2 separate regions of the Homo sapiens genome follow, and region 1 is linked to region 2. A link means that fine-mapping ties the variant in region 2 to the expression of a gene that starts in the linked region. Tissue or cell type: whole blood. Region 2 holds a variant in brackets; the other region holds the start of a gene. All regions are shown on one strand. Distances are between the middles of the regions.

The links.
Region 1: NFATC2 starts here. The variant in region 2 is fine-mapped to the expression of NFATC2 in whole blood (TOPMed, PIP 0.97).

Annotation. Positions count from the first base shown.
Region 1 is chr20:51,537,897-51,545,896 of GRCh38, reverse strand. NFATC2 (nuclear factor of activated T cells 2) reads left to right here and starts at 3,178. Exons shown (of 11, transcript NM_012340.5): 1 at 3,178-3,527. The coding sequence starts at 3,398. RefSeq lists silencers at 3,164-3,323, 3,334-3,443 and an enhancer at 4,208-4,877.
Region 2 is chr20:51,508,309-51,516,308 of GRCh38, reverse strand. The region is part of intron 3 of NFATC2 (nuclear factor of activated T cells 2); the gene reads left to right. Among named protein-coding and RNA genes, the nearest start is that of NFATC2, 30 kb to the left of the region's middle. The variant C/T (reference allele first, on the strand shown) is at 3,539.

The DNA.
Region 1 (8,000 bases), 30 kb before region 2:
TCCACTCATCCGTGCAACACATTCACTCTTTCATCCATCCATTCATCCATCTATCCTCCATCAATCCATCCATGTATCTTTCATTCATCCATTTATCCATTTATCCTCCATCCATCCGTCCATCCACCCTCCATCCACTCCTCCATCCATCATCCATCCATTCTTCCATCCATCCCCTATCCATCCATCCACCCATCTATTCATCCATCCACCCATCTTCCATCCATGCATCCATCTTCCATTCACCCATCCATCAATCCATCCCCTATCCATCCATCCACCCATCTATTCATCCATCCATCCATCTTCCATCCATGCATCCATCTTCCATTCACCCATCCATCAATCCATCTACTTATCCATCCTCCATTTATCCACACATCCATTGCACATAAAGCTGCGAATGAGGTGGTCATAGCCCCTGCCTTAGTGGATCTCAGGCTAGTTAGTGGAGATAAAATTCTCTGATTGGCGCAGTCTGGGTCATTCATCCACTTCGTTGCTTGGGGAAGGTGGGGCAGCTGGGTTGATAGCTCTACCAAGATTATGTTTAGAGTAGTTTCCCCAAGGAACACACTGGGGTGCTGTTATGAGAAGAAGGGAGGAATTATTCTGGGTAGGCACAATCAACAAATGTCCACTAGATTTAGTGGCACTTAATAATTATGGGATGGAGGGACGAGAAAGGATGTGGGGAGGCATTCCTAGCTTTTCTCCTTTTCTAAATCACAGGGGAAGCCTGGTTTTCTTGTTTATTGGCCAAAATTTCATCATCTGGACCTTGGGTCCCTGTCATAAGGACCCAGAAGAATCCATCTCTTTCTAGATACCTGTCTATAAGTATCCTAGCTGGGGTCTTCACTCTTCCTTCCTCCACCTAAATGCATCAGCTGCCCCCAAGATGCTTGTTGGATACACATGGCACAGAAGTGCTTATAGTTAGGAAACAAAGGCTGGAATTTCTTTATGCTCTGACAACCAGGAGGTGCTGCCCAAGACTCTGAAATGATTCCTGAGCCAGCCCCCAGGCCCCTGCAGTAGAGTTTGAGTCTAAACCAAAGTGGTTCTCATCTCTGGCCACACATTGGAAGCATCTGGTGAGCTTTTACAAAATACTGATGCCTAAGTCCCAACCCCAAACATTCTGATCAAATCGATGTCTGGTGGTGCTCAGGTCGTTGAATACAAATTTTAACAGCTCTCCAGGTGATTCTAATGTGTAGTCTGGGTTAAGAACCACTGGTCTGAGTGCAATTTTGAAAACCCCGTTCATAACTGTGCTACTTTGCTTTCAGGGCATAAGCATGATGAAGGGAGAGGCTGTGGCTTGTTGATGGTTGCATCCCCAACATCTTGTGGCAGTGCCAGGCAGGTGCTCAATAAATATTTGTGGAATGATGGATGGCTTGGCACAAATCCCCTTAATGGAGCTGAGATGGCTCCCCTGAAGAATGCGTGTCCTCAATTCCTCCTGGCACATGGGGAAGGATTCGAATCACTTGAGGTCAAGCTGTGGTTCTCACGAGGATCTTAAGACCTCTCCCGTCTAATCTTCTCATCCTCAACACTGGCTGCACCTTAGATTCATCTGAAGTTTAAAAAAATTTTCAGGCCGGGCGTGGTGGCTCACACCTGTAATCCCAGCACTTGGGGAGGCCGAGGCGGGTGGATCACGAGGTCAGGAGATCAAGACCTTCCTGGCTAACACAGTGAAACCCCATCTCTACTAAAAATACAAAAAAGTAGCCAGGCATGGTGGCTGGCGCCTGTAGTCCCAGCTACTCGGGAGGCTGAGGCAGGAGAATGGCGTGAACCCAGAAGGCAGAGCTTGCAATGAGCCAAGATCGCGCCACTGCACTCCAGCCTGGGCGACAGAGCGAGACTCCGTCTCCAAAAAAAAAAAAAAAAAAAAAAAAAAAAATTAGGAATTCTGCTTCAGTGGGTTTGGATTGCAGCCCAGCACGGGAGTTTAAAAAGGTGTCCCAGGTGATTCTAATATGTGGGAAGGGTTGAAGACCACTGTTTTGATCTTTTCTACCTCTGTGAGTCTGTTTCCAACTTCAGCTAAGTTGGTGGAGCCCCCTGGCAGAGTTTTATTGGAGGGTGTTCTTTAGTTACTGGGTCCTTATGCAGTGTTTGCCAAATGTACCTGTTCATTAATGCTCACGTTGGGTGCTTAATTAAAAATACACATTCACGAGTCTGTATTCAGACTTATGGAATCAGAAGCTCCAGGGAGGGGCCTGGGAATCATGCTTTAAACAAGCAGCCAGGCGTGTTTGTCACTTGCCAACCGCCCCATCAGAACTGTACTCCTCGTTCTCCCTCCAGCACACCCAGCCCCTTCGAGCTCTGGCTCTGTGTTTTGGTTCTCACTGCCAGAACACACTTCCCCAAGATCGCCTCATCAATCAGGTTTCTTCAAATGTCACCTCCTCAGAGAGGTCCTCCTTGACCACCCAAGGGACTAAAGCCACCCCAACCTTTATCCCATACCCTGGTGAGTTCTCTCCTGGCCCCATAAGCAGATGCTTTTTGTCCTGTTTCTCTCCTTCAGGCCTCTCCCACTACCAGAGCCTGAGCTTCCGAGGGCAACAGTGTCTGGCTCCGGCTGGGTGCCCAGCACCTGGCACGTGGTAGGTGGCCAGGAGGCATAGCTGTAACGGGGGGGACTAGTGCTGTCAGTCCGATTCCTTCCTAGGCGCTGGGGAGTTGAGTTCAGGGCCATGCAGGTGTCTGAAGTACTGTGAAAATCATGCCGCCCCCGTGGGCACACGGAGACGCCTGGAGACACGGGTCTGCAATAGAAGGGGGTGGATACCCCCTTCCACCCCATGGAGAAGAAAAGCAGGAAAAAGTGTGGGGCCAGTGGGTCCCTTAGGGCAAAAGTCCTAGTGGCGGCAGCTTTCTTGTCTAGACCCTGGTTCGCGCAGCGCGTGTCGCACTCACCCGTGGAGGGTGGGAGACAGCGGCCGCCCCAGCGCCCAGCGGTGGCCCGGGACAGTGTGGTCAGGTCCGCGGACAGCCTCCTTCCTCCCGGCACCGGCCAGCCCAGGCCGCGCGCCCCTCCCCTCCGGTCCCCTGGTGGCGGCCCCGCCCCCGCCGGCCTGGCCGCCCTGTCCCCGCCTCCACGCCCCCCCCCCCCCCGCCTCCCCGGGCTGCAACAGGTGCCTCCGGAGCAGGAAGCTCGCGCCGCCGTCGCCGCCGCCGCTCAGCTTCCCCGGGCGCGTCCAGGACCCGCTGCGCCAGGCGCGCCGTCCCCGGACCCGGCGTGCGTCCCTACGAGGAAAGGGACCCCGCCGCTCGAGCCGCCTCCGCCAGCCCCACTGCGAGGGGTCCCAGAGCCAGCCGCGCCCGCCCTCGCCCCCGGCCCCGCAGCCTTCCCGCCCTGCGCGCCATGAACGCCCCCGAGCGGCAGCCCCAACCCGACGGCGGGGACGCCCCAGGCCACGAGCCTGGGGGCAGCCCCCAAGACGAGCTTGACTTCTCCATCCTCTTCGACTATGAGTATTTGAATCCGAACGAAGGTCGGTGGAGGCTACCCCTGGCCTGGCCCCTGAGCCCGCCAGGGGCTCAGGCCTGGGGACTGGGCACAGGAGTCCTCTTGGCTCCAGCCGTCCCCCTTCCTAAGGGGCCTGGAGGGAGGGTGCCCCTACCCAGGTGCCAGGGAGGGGAGGCGTCAGTGGCCCCTGCCACCCTTAGGGGGCGGTCGGCTCCCTCTTGCCCCTTAGGGGCACCAGTTTCTGGTTGCTCATGACTGCTCCCTGAGGGTCACTCTCAGCAAAACAAAAGGTGGCAGGCAGGTCCCAAGGCTGGGGGGCGGGTGCTGTCTGCTGGCCTCTTGCCTGGGACTGGGCTGTCAAAGGGCAAGGGACATGATTTCTGTGCCTTTGGAGGGAGGAGGTGAGGAAGCGAAGAATGGAGTTAGCAGGGAGGAGTTGCCAAAAAAAGAAGGAAGGGGGGTGCAGCTGAACCCAGTTATCAAGGGTAGGAGGCCGCTCCTTCCCTCCAGGCACTGAAGTGAGGCCACGCAGCTCCCATCACCTCCTGTGAGCAGTGGTTGACGGGGACTTTGTGTTGAAACTGAGGAAGAGGTTGTCTGTCTGATGCTGGAGAGGGTTAAAACCTTTGGTATTATAAGGCCGGCCCATTTCCTCCCTGGGTTCTGCTGCTGAACCCATCACTTACCACTCACAAGAGGATTGGTCTGAGCTATATTAAGTGATCTTCTACGCTTAGTCCTAATGGATGTGGTGGGATGGGGTAGGGTGAGGGGCAGCTGCAGCATGGATTCAGAAGGACACAGGCTCTTTCTGCCTGAACTTTGTCACTCTGTGCCTCCAACTGCCCTCAGTTGCTGGGGGCTGGGGACTTCCCCGGGCTGGGCCCAATGCTTATCTGTCACTTCACGTGTTTAACAGGAGCATTCGTTAGAGGGAGGAGGAGGAGGAGGGGGAAGCGGCCACACGCCCAACCTCACTGTGTATTTCTGGTTAGCAGGTTGTCTTGGAAAAAACAAAAAACCCAACCAGGCTTCCTGATTTTGACAGCCCAGCCCAGCCCAGCCAATGCTTGTTGAAGGCTCAGTGGCAGGCCTGTTAGTAGCTTCCAGACGCACTCTGGGCTTGCCTCCATCTAGTGTGTAGGAAGGGCTTGTGCTGACTGGCTCGTGGAGGAAGCCTGTCAAGGAGGCTTGGTGGCCTGATGTTTCCCACAAACACTGTGTTAGGCAGATAATGAAGTTTTCGCTTCCATCGGTGTCCTCTCTGGCCACGTTAGGTGAGGGGTTTGCTTTAGCTTTGGGTATCCTCTTCCCTTGGATACCCAGAGATGGTCATTAGTAATAATTTTGTGTCTTGGCTGGAGATGGAAACAATTAGCCAACAGAAGAGACCAGTCTTCTAGAGTTGCAATCTGGAGGACATCTTTTGCTTTGAAAAGATACAATTAAGAATCTGCAAACGATCCGCACTAATATCCGTGGTCTTTCTGTTCATTAAGATTAAAGTCATGTTTTTCAGGGAACGAATACTCACACCCCTCCCAGATTGGTAATCAGCTTTTATTTTCCTTGTCGGGTGGGGTGGGGGGATTTCCGGGGAAATAGTTTCCAAGCCAAATCTGAAGGGAGGTACTTTTTATGGTTTTTCTTGGCAAGTGCTGCTTGGTGGCCACCAGATGGGTATCTAAATGACCACAATGAAAGCCCTGGAATCTGTTTTCTCAAAAAAAAAAAAACAAAAAAAAAACTTCAGTTTTTGGAACAGTTTCAGATTTACAGAAAAGTTGCAAAGATAGCACAGAGAGTTCCCATATACCCAATACCCTGTTTCCCCGTGTTATTAATGTTTTACATTAGTATGGTGCATTTATTGTAACCAACAAACCAATATTGACACATTATTAACTGAGGTTTATGCCTTATTCAGATTGGGAATGTTTTATGTGACCTTCACTGTTTTGAGGAGTGTTGGTTGTATTGTAGACTGTCCCTTCATTAGACTAGGGCTCTAGGTTTTCGGGAGGAAGCCCACAAAGATAAAGCTCCCTTCTCATCACATCGTATCAAGAGTATGTACTATCCAGCCAGGCGTGGTGGCTCACGCCTGTAATCCCAACACTTTGGGAGGCTGAGGCGGGCGGATCACCTGAGGTCAGGAGGTCAAGACCAGCCTGGCCAACATGGTGAAACCCCAACTCTACTAAAAATACACAAATTAGCCAGGCATGGTGGAAGGCACTGTAATTCCAGAAACTCAGGAGGATGACGCAGGAGAATTGCTTGAACCCAGTAGGCAGAAGTTGCAGTGAGGCAGGTGGCACCATTGCACTCCAGCCTGGGTGACAAGAGTGAGACTCTGTCTCAAAAAACAACAACAAAAAGTATACTATCCATGTCATTTATCATTAATGCTAACCTTGATTACCCAGTAGAGGTAGCTTTTCTCAGTTTCTTCAAACTCTTTGGAAGGCATTACTACATGAAGCCCACACTTAAGGAGTACAGAGTAATACTCCAGAATCTGGAAAGCACTTACTCTTTGCTGAGAAGTAGGCAGCACAGAAGAGTTAGCACCCAGAAAGAGAAGGGATGCTGTGGCCGGGAGTGGTGGCTCATGCCTGCAATCCCAACAATTTGGGAAGTCGAGGTGGGAAGATTGCTTGAGTCCAGGGCTTCAAGACCAGCTGGGGCAACATAGCAAGACCTCATCTCTAATAAAAATAAAAAAATAAAACAATTAGCCTAGCCTAGTTGCGCATGCCTGTAGACCCAGCTTCCCAGCTACTCGGAGGCTTAGGTAGGAGAATCTCTTAACCCCAGGAGTTCGAGGCTGCCCTGAGCCGTGATCGTGCCACTGCACTCCAGCCCATGGGACAGTGCGAAACCCTGTCTCAAACCAACAAACCAGACAAAAAAAGAGAAGGGACATGGTAAGCTTTAAGAGGCTAATGTGAACTGCCCCAGATGTGCATCTGGCTCTGGGTCACCCAGATGTTAATAGCAGTCACCTCTCTTTGCTTCTGTATGGTGGGACTCCTCAGGGGTGAACACTAGCCTTAATCTTTTTATTAGGTTTTGTCCCAGATGGCAACATATTGGTGACGCATGTAAAGTTCTATCCTTAACTCTGGGCACGAGCTTGGCAAAAACCAAGGAAGGAAAGGTACTGCTAATGGGGCAGACATTGTTGATAGAATTGGTGAAGGTAAATTAGGGAATTTTGGGGAGGTCGGATGCTCATTTTATGGAGTTTAGCATGTAGCAGACGTTCATTAGCCCATGTGATTCCACTCCAACCCTAGGAGGCAGGCACTATTATCACCCCTGTTTTATGGAGGAGGACGCTAAGGCACAGAGAGGTAAAGTAATTTTCCCAAAATGGGCAGTGTTGCTCCATACCATGTGTTCTGAACTATTGTGTTAGGGTCCTCATTCTCTCATTTGGTGAGAGACACATGCAAACCAGTTAGCAAGGTGTCTGGGACCATGGCAGGGCTGGAATTGAAAACCTTGTTTACCAACAAGGTGATCTTGAGCAAGTCATCTCATCTCTCTGGACATCTGTCTGCTTATCTGTAAAATGGCTGAAATAATACCACTTGCCTCATAGGACCGTTACCTGCCTTGAATAGGTTAACCCATTTAAATCAACACAGCATGTGATCTGTTACTAGTGGTTTAGTAAACCCTTGCTTTTGTTAATGGAGGTGTTCAATTAATATGAGCCATTGTTTATTTACTCATTCAGCTATTGAGCACCCTCTGTGTTAGATCCTAGGGTCACAACGGGGAATGAGACCCAGATCCTGTCCTCTCTGAGCTACTGCCTCTAATTGTGCCTCTGTTGTTTTCTCTTGTCTAATTGCATTAACTAATACCTCCAGTAGAGTGTTACATGATAGTGAAGACAGTGGGCATCCTTGCCTTGGAGGAGGACTCCAGTGTTGGCTTTAAAATTGAGGTGTATGAATTATGTAAAGGAAGTATTAGTTCTTTCTTTTTTCCCCCGAGAGTTTTTATTACAAATGGGAGTTGAATTATATCAAAGGCTTTTTTAGCATCTATGGAAAAATATGATCTTATTCTTCGTAGACCTATTAATGTGTTGGCATACATTATTAGATTTCTTTATATGAAGACATCCTTGGTATGGACTCCACTTGGTGTATTATTTTCTTAAGGTGGTTGTGGCATCAGATAATATTTAAGCATTTTTCAGTATTCATGAGTGATATTCATATTGGCCTATTTTTTGTGCTATCAGGTTTAGGTTTCTTTCCTTTTCTAAGCTCAGGAATAATTTCTGTCTCCCTGGGACTCCCTGGTCTCTAAAGCTGTGATAGAATTCCTCTGTGAAGCCGCCTGGACCTGGTGCTTCTTTGTGGAGTTGTTTCTTGATGGCTTTCTCTATACTGTGGGAATTGGTCTCTTTACACTTTCTACTTCTACTGGAGTCAATTTTTGTAAACTCTATCTTTCTGGGAAATTATCCATTTTA
Region 2 (8,000 bases):
CACGCCAGCCTCTGTTACCATATATTTCTATTCTTAATTCTATAGTGAACATGTAGATTGTACTCTGATTTTTTAAGTTTACATTTTGCCATGAGCATTTCCTTTTGTTTTTTTCTTAATCAGTAGCTTTTTTGTGTGTCTGTGGCTTTTGATTTAACCTCAGATTTTTTTTTCAAAATAAGTAGAGAAGTGTGCCTATTTTTCCCCAAAATAATTGGAGTTGAAATATTCTTAATTGTATAATCTGGTTAACCAGGAACAACTGACTGGTGCCCACTAACAAGTCAATTAACTAGAACCTTTAATACATTTAAATTAATATAACTTTTTTTGGTATTTGCCTTAAAGTAGAAGTATCCTATTAATATGATAAAACTTGGTTCTTAATCTATAGTGTGCATCAGAACCTCTAGGGTGGTTCTTAAAAATTCAGATTGTTGGGCATTCTGAAACTAAATTAGAAACTATATAACATGAGTAAAGCCCAGGTAAACAAACAAACAAATGAAAAACAGCAAACTCCCCAAATCTCCACAGGTGCTTTGGGTGTGTACCTCTGATTAAGGACATCTATGATAATATTAAGAACTTGTAAGTCCTGACAATTGCTTTTTTTTTTTTTTAAATCAGACACCATAGCCATCTTGGAATCTGTTTCTATTCATTGAGTTTTGGTTCTTGACCATGAGTCCCATTTTCCTGTTGTGTTGCCTGTCTAGTAGTTGTCGACTGCATTCTGACATCGTGATGATATATACTGGATGTGGTAGACATTCTGAACTTTCTTTCGTGCTTCATCAGGTGGATCTGTGGAAAGCACAAGGTGTATCTAACTTGATGGGGCTTAGATTTTAAACTGTCTTCTCTGTATTTTATTTGAGGATTGGTTTTAGGCCCCATTAGGGCAGGCCTGGAGTAGCCCTTCCTCTGAGGCATGTGCCTGTTCTGAAGGCATGGCCATTTTGGATGCTTGGTGGGGAGGTCTCTTTAATCTGGTGGGCTGGAATTCCCATATGCCAGCTCCGCTGCACTCTTAGTCTCTCTGTTCTCTCCACCCCATAGCAGCCCCTCTCTGGTAAACCTCGCACCATCTCTCCCTGTGCTTACACAGCCCAGCCCTTGGCCAAAGAGTTGAGGGTTTCCCCCAGCAGCTTCCTCCTCTCTGATGCCACCGATTCCAGCAGTTTCCACAGCCTGGCACTCTGAGCGGTGCCAGGAATCCAGGATTATTTCAGGAATCCTCAGCACAGCGGGACCACTGTGCTCTGCTCAGATGCTACTTCCTGCACGTGGCAGGGGAGCTGTCCCCAGGCAGAGAGCTGAAATGAAGGTGGGCTCACCTGTGCACTTCCTCTCCCTTGGGGACCGCAGTCTTCTGATTCCTGCCGTCCAATCCTGAGAGCAATTGCCTTATGTAATATATATATGTATTTTTTGACAGAGTCTATCACTCTGTCACACAGGCTGGAGTGCAGTGGTGTAATCTTGGCTCACTGCAACCTCTGCCTCCTGGGTTCAGGTGATTCCTCTGCCTCAGCCTCCTGAGTAGCTGGGATTACAGGTGTGCGCCACCATGCCTGGTTAATTTTTGTATTTTTAGTAGAGACAGGGTTTCACTATATTGGTCTGGCTGGTCTTGAACTCTTGATTTCAAGTGATCCACCCACCTCGGCCTCCCAAAGTGCTGGGATTATAGGCGTGAGCCACCGTGCCTGGCCAAGTGCTCTGTTTTATGTGTCCACAGCTCCATGCACCTTTCCTTCATGCTACCTGCCACTACTTGTAATTCTAACATTTGCATAATTATTTTGTCAATGTCTCTCTCTCTTAGACCATGAGCTTTGTTTAAAAGAGACCACAACTTCCTTCTTATTCTTCATTGTATATCACCATCAAGCACAGTTTGCTGCCACAAACATAGCAGGCACTCAACAAATACTTGGAGAATGAATCTGCTCATTAAATGCATTGGCCAAACAATTTTAAGTCTTAAGGAGAGAGAATCTGTATCCATTTCTGGCTTTGTGGCATCTTCATTCACTGATTATTCAAAAGATGTTTATTGAGCACCTACTATGTACCAGGCATGGTGCTTGATTCTGGGTTATGATATGAACAAAACAGCTGGAAATTCTCACCATCATGAGCTTACATTTTGGCAAGATGATAGTAATAATAAACATTTAGAAAACATTTGCTGCCTGTGAGATCCTGTTCCAAGTGCTGCATATGTGTTAACTTATTTAATCCTCAAAAGAGCCTTATGATGCAGGTAACAGGTCAAGTAGCTGTCAAGGACTTGTTCAAGGTTATGGCTATTAAATGGTGGAGCTGGGATTTGGATACCGCAAGCTCTATTTGCAGCACAGTAGATCTGATCATCCACGTCTCTTTGCAGACCAGCTCTTCCTGCCTTCTCACTTGTGCAGAAAAAGCCTGAAGGGGAAATGCCCACGCCTCCTGCGGGCCACTCCATTCCCCCTAGTTTTGCATGCTGTTCCAGTATGAGCCTTGTCATCACCTCATGGGAGCTAAATCCTGATTCTCAGGGAGATGCTGATTGGCCCTGTCTTGGGAGGGTGCCGCCCATTGGTCCAGTAGGCTGTGGCCTGGAGGTTGGGCTGCATGAGGAGTGAGGCTCAGCTCACCCATTCATCAGGGGCTGGGGCCCTGGAAATTTCCAGAGAAGGGAATGGGCTGAGTGTACAGTCCAGGAGACACCTGCTAGGCTGTCCCTGAAGTTTGTGCTTCTCCCTCTGATAGCTCCCAAGGACTCTTGCCTCTTCATGCATGTGACTTTGTTTGTTTGTTTATTTGTTTGCTTATTTTAGAGATAGGATCTTGCTTTGTCACCCAGGCTGGAGTGCAGTGGCATGATCACTGCTCACTGCTGCCTTGAATTTCTGAGCTCAAGTGATCCTCCCACCTCAGCCTCCTGAGTAGTTGGGACTATAGGCGTGTTACCACCATGCCCAGCTAATTTTTTCCTTTTTTGTAGAGACATGGTCTCCCTGCGTTGCTTAGGCTGGTCTTGAACTCCTGGGCTCAAGTGATCCTACCACCTCATCCTCCCAAAGTGTTAGGATTACAGTGTGAGCCACCACAAGTGGCCCAAGTGCCTGTAACTTTGAAGATCCAATATATGATTTAAAAACTTGCAGACAAGTCTCTTTAAAAGACAAAAAGTGGAGTCTTTTTAAAAAGTCATTTGAATAGATTATGTTTTTTCAAAATAAGTCATGCTAATTACTGATTTTTAGCATGGGAAGTCAGTTTAAAAAAAAAAACTTCTTGGAAAAATTGAGAAAAGAGTGGACTTTAAGAGGATTGCTGCTCTTACCCTTCAAGGGAGTGTGAAAACTCCTTCTGGAATCTGCAGCACTGCCCCTTTCATATCCAGAAGAGCAGTGTAGCCTGCTTTGTACCTTGCCTGAATGCTTCCGCCGGCTTCTCTGTTGATTTCTGTCTCACTCTTTATCTCTGTATCTGTTTCTATTTCTGAACCACAGCCTCTTCTCCCCTCTCAGTTACTCAGTCT[C/T]CACCCTTCTCTCTTTTATTTGCCTCACTATAGAACTTCATTCTTTTTTCATGCCTAGTGGTTTTAAGCTCCTCTTTATATAAAAAGAAAATGAATATAAGACCATTTCATTTTTTATCCTTAAGTGTACAATTAAAAATCTTAAACATATGCCATGCTCAGCTGTTCTCTTCATTGCTTTTTTTGAATGGTACTTGGTCTTGGGAGAAAGTTTGTTCCCAAACCTTAAGTGCTTGTCAGATCTCATGACTCATTTGTATGGGGAATGTCTCACTGGGGACCTGCCATGTGCCAGGCACTGTGCTGGTTGCAGGTGATACAACGTTGGTGAGATCAGCACAGCTCATGCCCTGAGGGAGCTCAGGGGCTGCGGGAAAGTGGACTAGGATGGTTTGAGTTGGTCAGGGAGGCCTGAGAGGCCAGATGGCGGCCACTTGGAGGGGATCTGTGGGCTGATGCCTGGACTCACGGTGGGACGTGATGGCTGATTAGAAGCTTGTCCATTGGATTCACCGCTTGGGAGGAACTGCTTCTACAGAACAAACCATGACAAGAGATGGTACTTGGAAGACCTACTTTAGAAAGAGTGTCTCGTTGAGGAGGTGACTTGTCAGCTGGGACCTGGAACAGGTCATAGAACCAGCAAAGAGACAAATGATGTCCTCCTCCTCCTCCGTGCTCTCTGTCTCTCTTAGTCGGGGGAGAGTGTTCTACACACAGAGCACAGCACATGCAAAGGCCCTGAGGCAGGGAAGGACTGTGTGTGGCTGAAGAGCTGAAGGAGGGCCAGTGTCATTCAAGTTTAGCTTGCAGGGTGATGGTTGGCAGGCCCAAACTGTGCAGGGCTTAAAAGCCAAGGTGAGGAGATGAAATTTTGCTTATTCCAGGGCAAGGGGAAGACATGATACGTTTTGAGTAGAGGAGGAACTTGATTCTGATTTAACATTTTATAGATCACTCAGGTTTCTCCCTGGGGACTAGATTAGAAGAAGTTACGGAAGAAGCAGGGAGATGAGATTGTTAGCCTGTGGCAGTACCAGGGGAAAGATCAAGGTGGTAAGGACTAGAAGGTGGCAGTGGGAGCGGAAGCTATGGACTCTATAATGTGATCTTCAGGACTTAGGTATGGGAGGTAAAGGAGCAACTGAGTGGATGGTTCGGTTGGATGGATGGCGGAGAAGGACTTGGGAAAGAAAGTGTTTTCTTGGGGGAAGATTGCAAGTTCTCTTTGGGGCATAGAAGGTACAAAGGGCTTCCAAGGCACACGAGCAAAGATGTCAAGTAAACAGTTGGATATATGAGCTTGGAGCTCAGAAGCAAAGTCCTCAACTTGCTCTCAGGCCTGTGGGATGCCTCGGGGCCACACGCTGCATCACCAGAGGCCCCAGCAAGCACCCACTTGCAAGGACTGACTGTCCACACCCTCAGTAACAATGCGCCTCTCTCTAGAAGCAGTGGACTAAGGAAGAAGCAAAGAAGAGACTGTATAAACAAGATCACAAACAGACAAGCCCAGGAGGGCCAGGCAATGAAAGGAAATGACTGAACTGACCAAATGTCAGGGAGCAACAGGGGGTGGTGGGGAGTAGGGCAGAGCGGCATGTGAGTCTTGCCTCAGGAGGCAGTTGCTGTTCAGTCCCTATAGGCTGTGACATGTGGGAATGTGGGTGGAATGTTGCCAGGTTTTATAGGTTTTGTTTTTTCTTCTTTCCCAAGAGCTAGGAGTTGGAATTTTTATGTGAAATTTCTGATTTTTCAGTTTTGGCCATAAATCAAACTTTGGGTTGAATTTGGCTCATGGCAAATATGCTTCAGTTCACATCATCTGGAATAAATAAGAATGGTGCTACTTCAAGGTTTATCAAATAGGAAGGGAGATAAGAGAGAGGTTATATTTATATGATTTCTAAGAATTGTCTAGTTACAGAACGAACCCTGTTAACAGCCGGATCGAGGTAGTTTCTCTTATAAAACCCTAAATCTCAGGTGAGTGTGGTGGCTCACACCTGTAATCCCAGCTACTTGGGAGGCTGAGGCAAGAGGATTGCTTGAGCTCAGGAGTTCAGGGCGGCAGTCCGCTGTGATCGTGCCACTGCACTCCAGCCTGGGTGACAGAGTGAGACCATGTCTCTAAAAAAACAAACAAATAAATAAAAAAGTTCTAAATCTTATTGAAGTAGAACAAGTCTAGGGTTCTTTCAGAGGAACCAATGAATCTTAATGCACAAGCCTGACTTTGGTCTGCAGGTATCAGATGAAAAGGGGAACCACTTGATTCATCTCAAAAGAGCCACACGCTTTTGGTGGAGCCCTGCCATCATTCCTCGCCCTGTTTCAGGACAGGATGCAGTGGTCCTCCGGTGGACAAAACATCCATTCAGAGCGGTTTTGCAAGGTTGGGCTTTAAGTGTTTCCATAGTTCTTCAGCTTATGAGGTCTAATAATATCCCAGTTGAGAGTGGCCTGTATAACGCCATTGTCATTTAATCCTTTCCTGGCGGCTTCCAAACCCTTTAACCATATTCTGCACAGAAATTCCCTGGAGGGGATACTTTGGTATATTCCTTATCCATCCTTGTGCTGGGGCTTTCAAAAAATGTTATTCTTACAACTCTCTGGGATGCATGTTTAATGGAAAGAATAATCAGAACGCCATCCTTTTAGGGAGTGATCAAAATATGAGAACGTGGAAGCGTCGCACTCACCTCCAAAGAGTCCTCTTGGTTCTTTCAAGCAGATGTTCAGACATGTGGAAAAAACATGGGTAGCTCTGTTACGAGGAATTCCTTGCAGATGCGGAAACCCGATGGCCATTTCATTCCCGGTAACAGTAATGAGCTTTGCAGGGAGGTGAGTGAGGGCCTGAGGCCCACCTGTCCAGGCTACTGCCTCCTGGGCTGGAGGAGCTGGTAAAGTCTCCAGTCTTTCAAAACCTCATAAAATGGATTATGGGACGTGGATGCTCATTCTGTTGGATTTCAGCTTTTATGCTAACTGCAACTTACTTGAAATGATATCTAAGGAAGGGAAGAAGCAAGCCAGATGGGATTTTTTCCTTTCCAGGTGAAAGCTGCACTCGTGACAGTAAGCAGTGCTCCTTTAGCAGTTGGCTGGGTGTGTTAGCTTCTATTTGTCTAATAAAATTTTGTGTTTGGGGACGTGAGACAGGAAGTAGTTCTTGCTGATGCTAATTTGTCTTGATCAGGGCTGCTGTGTTGGCATCTACAGAAGGTTCCATTGGACCTCCTGGGGAGGGGAAGGGAAAGAGGTGGTGGCCGGGTCACTCAGGCTTCCAAAAAATTGGAGGAGGAGAATGTTCTGAGATCACTGGGGTTCATTTGCTCATTTATTAAAAATACTTACCAAGCACCTACTGTGTGCTTGGCACTGGGAATATGGCAGTGAACCACAGGCAAAAATCCCTGGCCCTGTGGAGCTGATGTGCTGGCTAGGGGGAGATAGCAATATAGCTTATAAATAGGAAAATTTTAAATAGTATGTTAAATAGGAAAATGAAATAGTATGTTGGGAGGTGATAAGTCCTATGGGGAAAACTATCAGGCCAAGGAGAATTGGGAGTGGTTTGATGGATCTCCCTGGGAAAGCCACATTTGGGCAAAGAAGGAGGTGCCCACGTGGAAGCTGCAGGGACCTCTCCAGGCTGAGGAGAGAGCAGGGCTGAGTTGGGTGACATCTTGAACAGAGAGGAGGCCTGTGTGGGAAGGGCAGGGGAAGGGGAAGGATAGGGGGGCGGATCGTGGGCCTCGCACATGTTTAGTTAGAGGACTTGGACTCTGAGCGAGGCGGGAGCTGGGAGGGCCTGGCTTGACGTAGGTGTCAGCAGGATCCCTCTGCTGGGGTGTGGACAGGGAGAAGCTGCTGCAGAGGCCCAGGCCAGAGGGGATGGTGGCTGGACCAGGGTGGGGGCATGGGGGAGCAGGAGAAGGGGTTAGAGTCAGAGCATGTTTTGAAAGTCAGGCTAACTGGATTTTTTTGAGACTGGCTGCAAGAGGGGTGGCATCTGTCTGTCTGGGGCTGTAGCCTTGGGAAAGGCCAGAGTCTCTAGGGACCCTGTTCATCCCTGCCGAGACTCCTGCTATTTTTAGAGGGAAAGCATCTTTTAGAGGTGACTTGATGTAGCCTTTTCACTTCAAGATGGAGGCGGGGATGGGGTGGGGAGTAGCAGAGCGGGGTGTGTGATGTGGGGGTTCTGAGGCCGACTTTTGAGGAGCCATCCTCACCACCTCCTCCTTGTCTATACCAGTCTTTTGATGAGACTGGTGATTTCATTAAAATTTGAAAAAGACTACAGTCCAAACCAGGTACACCCGTGGGCCAGTTGTGGCACTGCTCTCTGCCCCGCCGCACGTGTCCCCGGCTGAGGGATGCCCGCAGTGGTCGAGGATGGACTTGTGAAACGATTGAGACCTGCACCCTGGCCTCCGAGGTGAGAGGTGGAGAG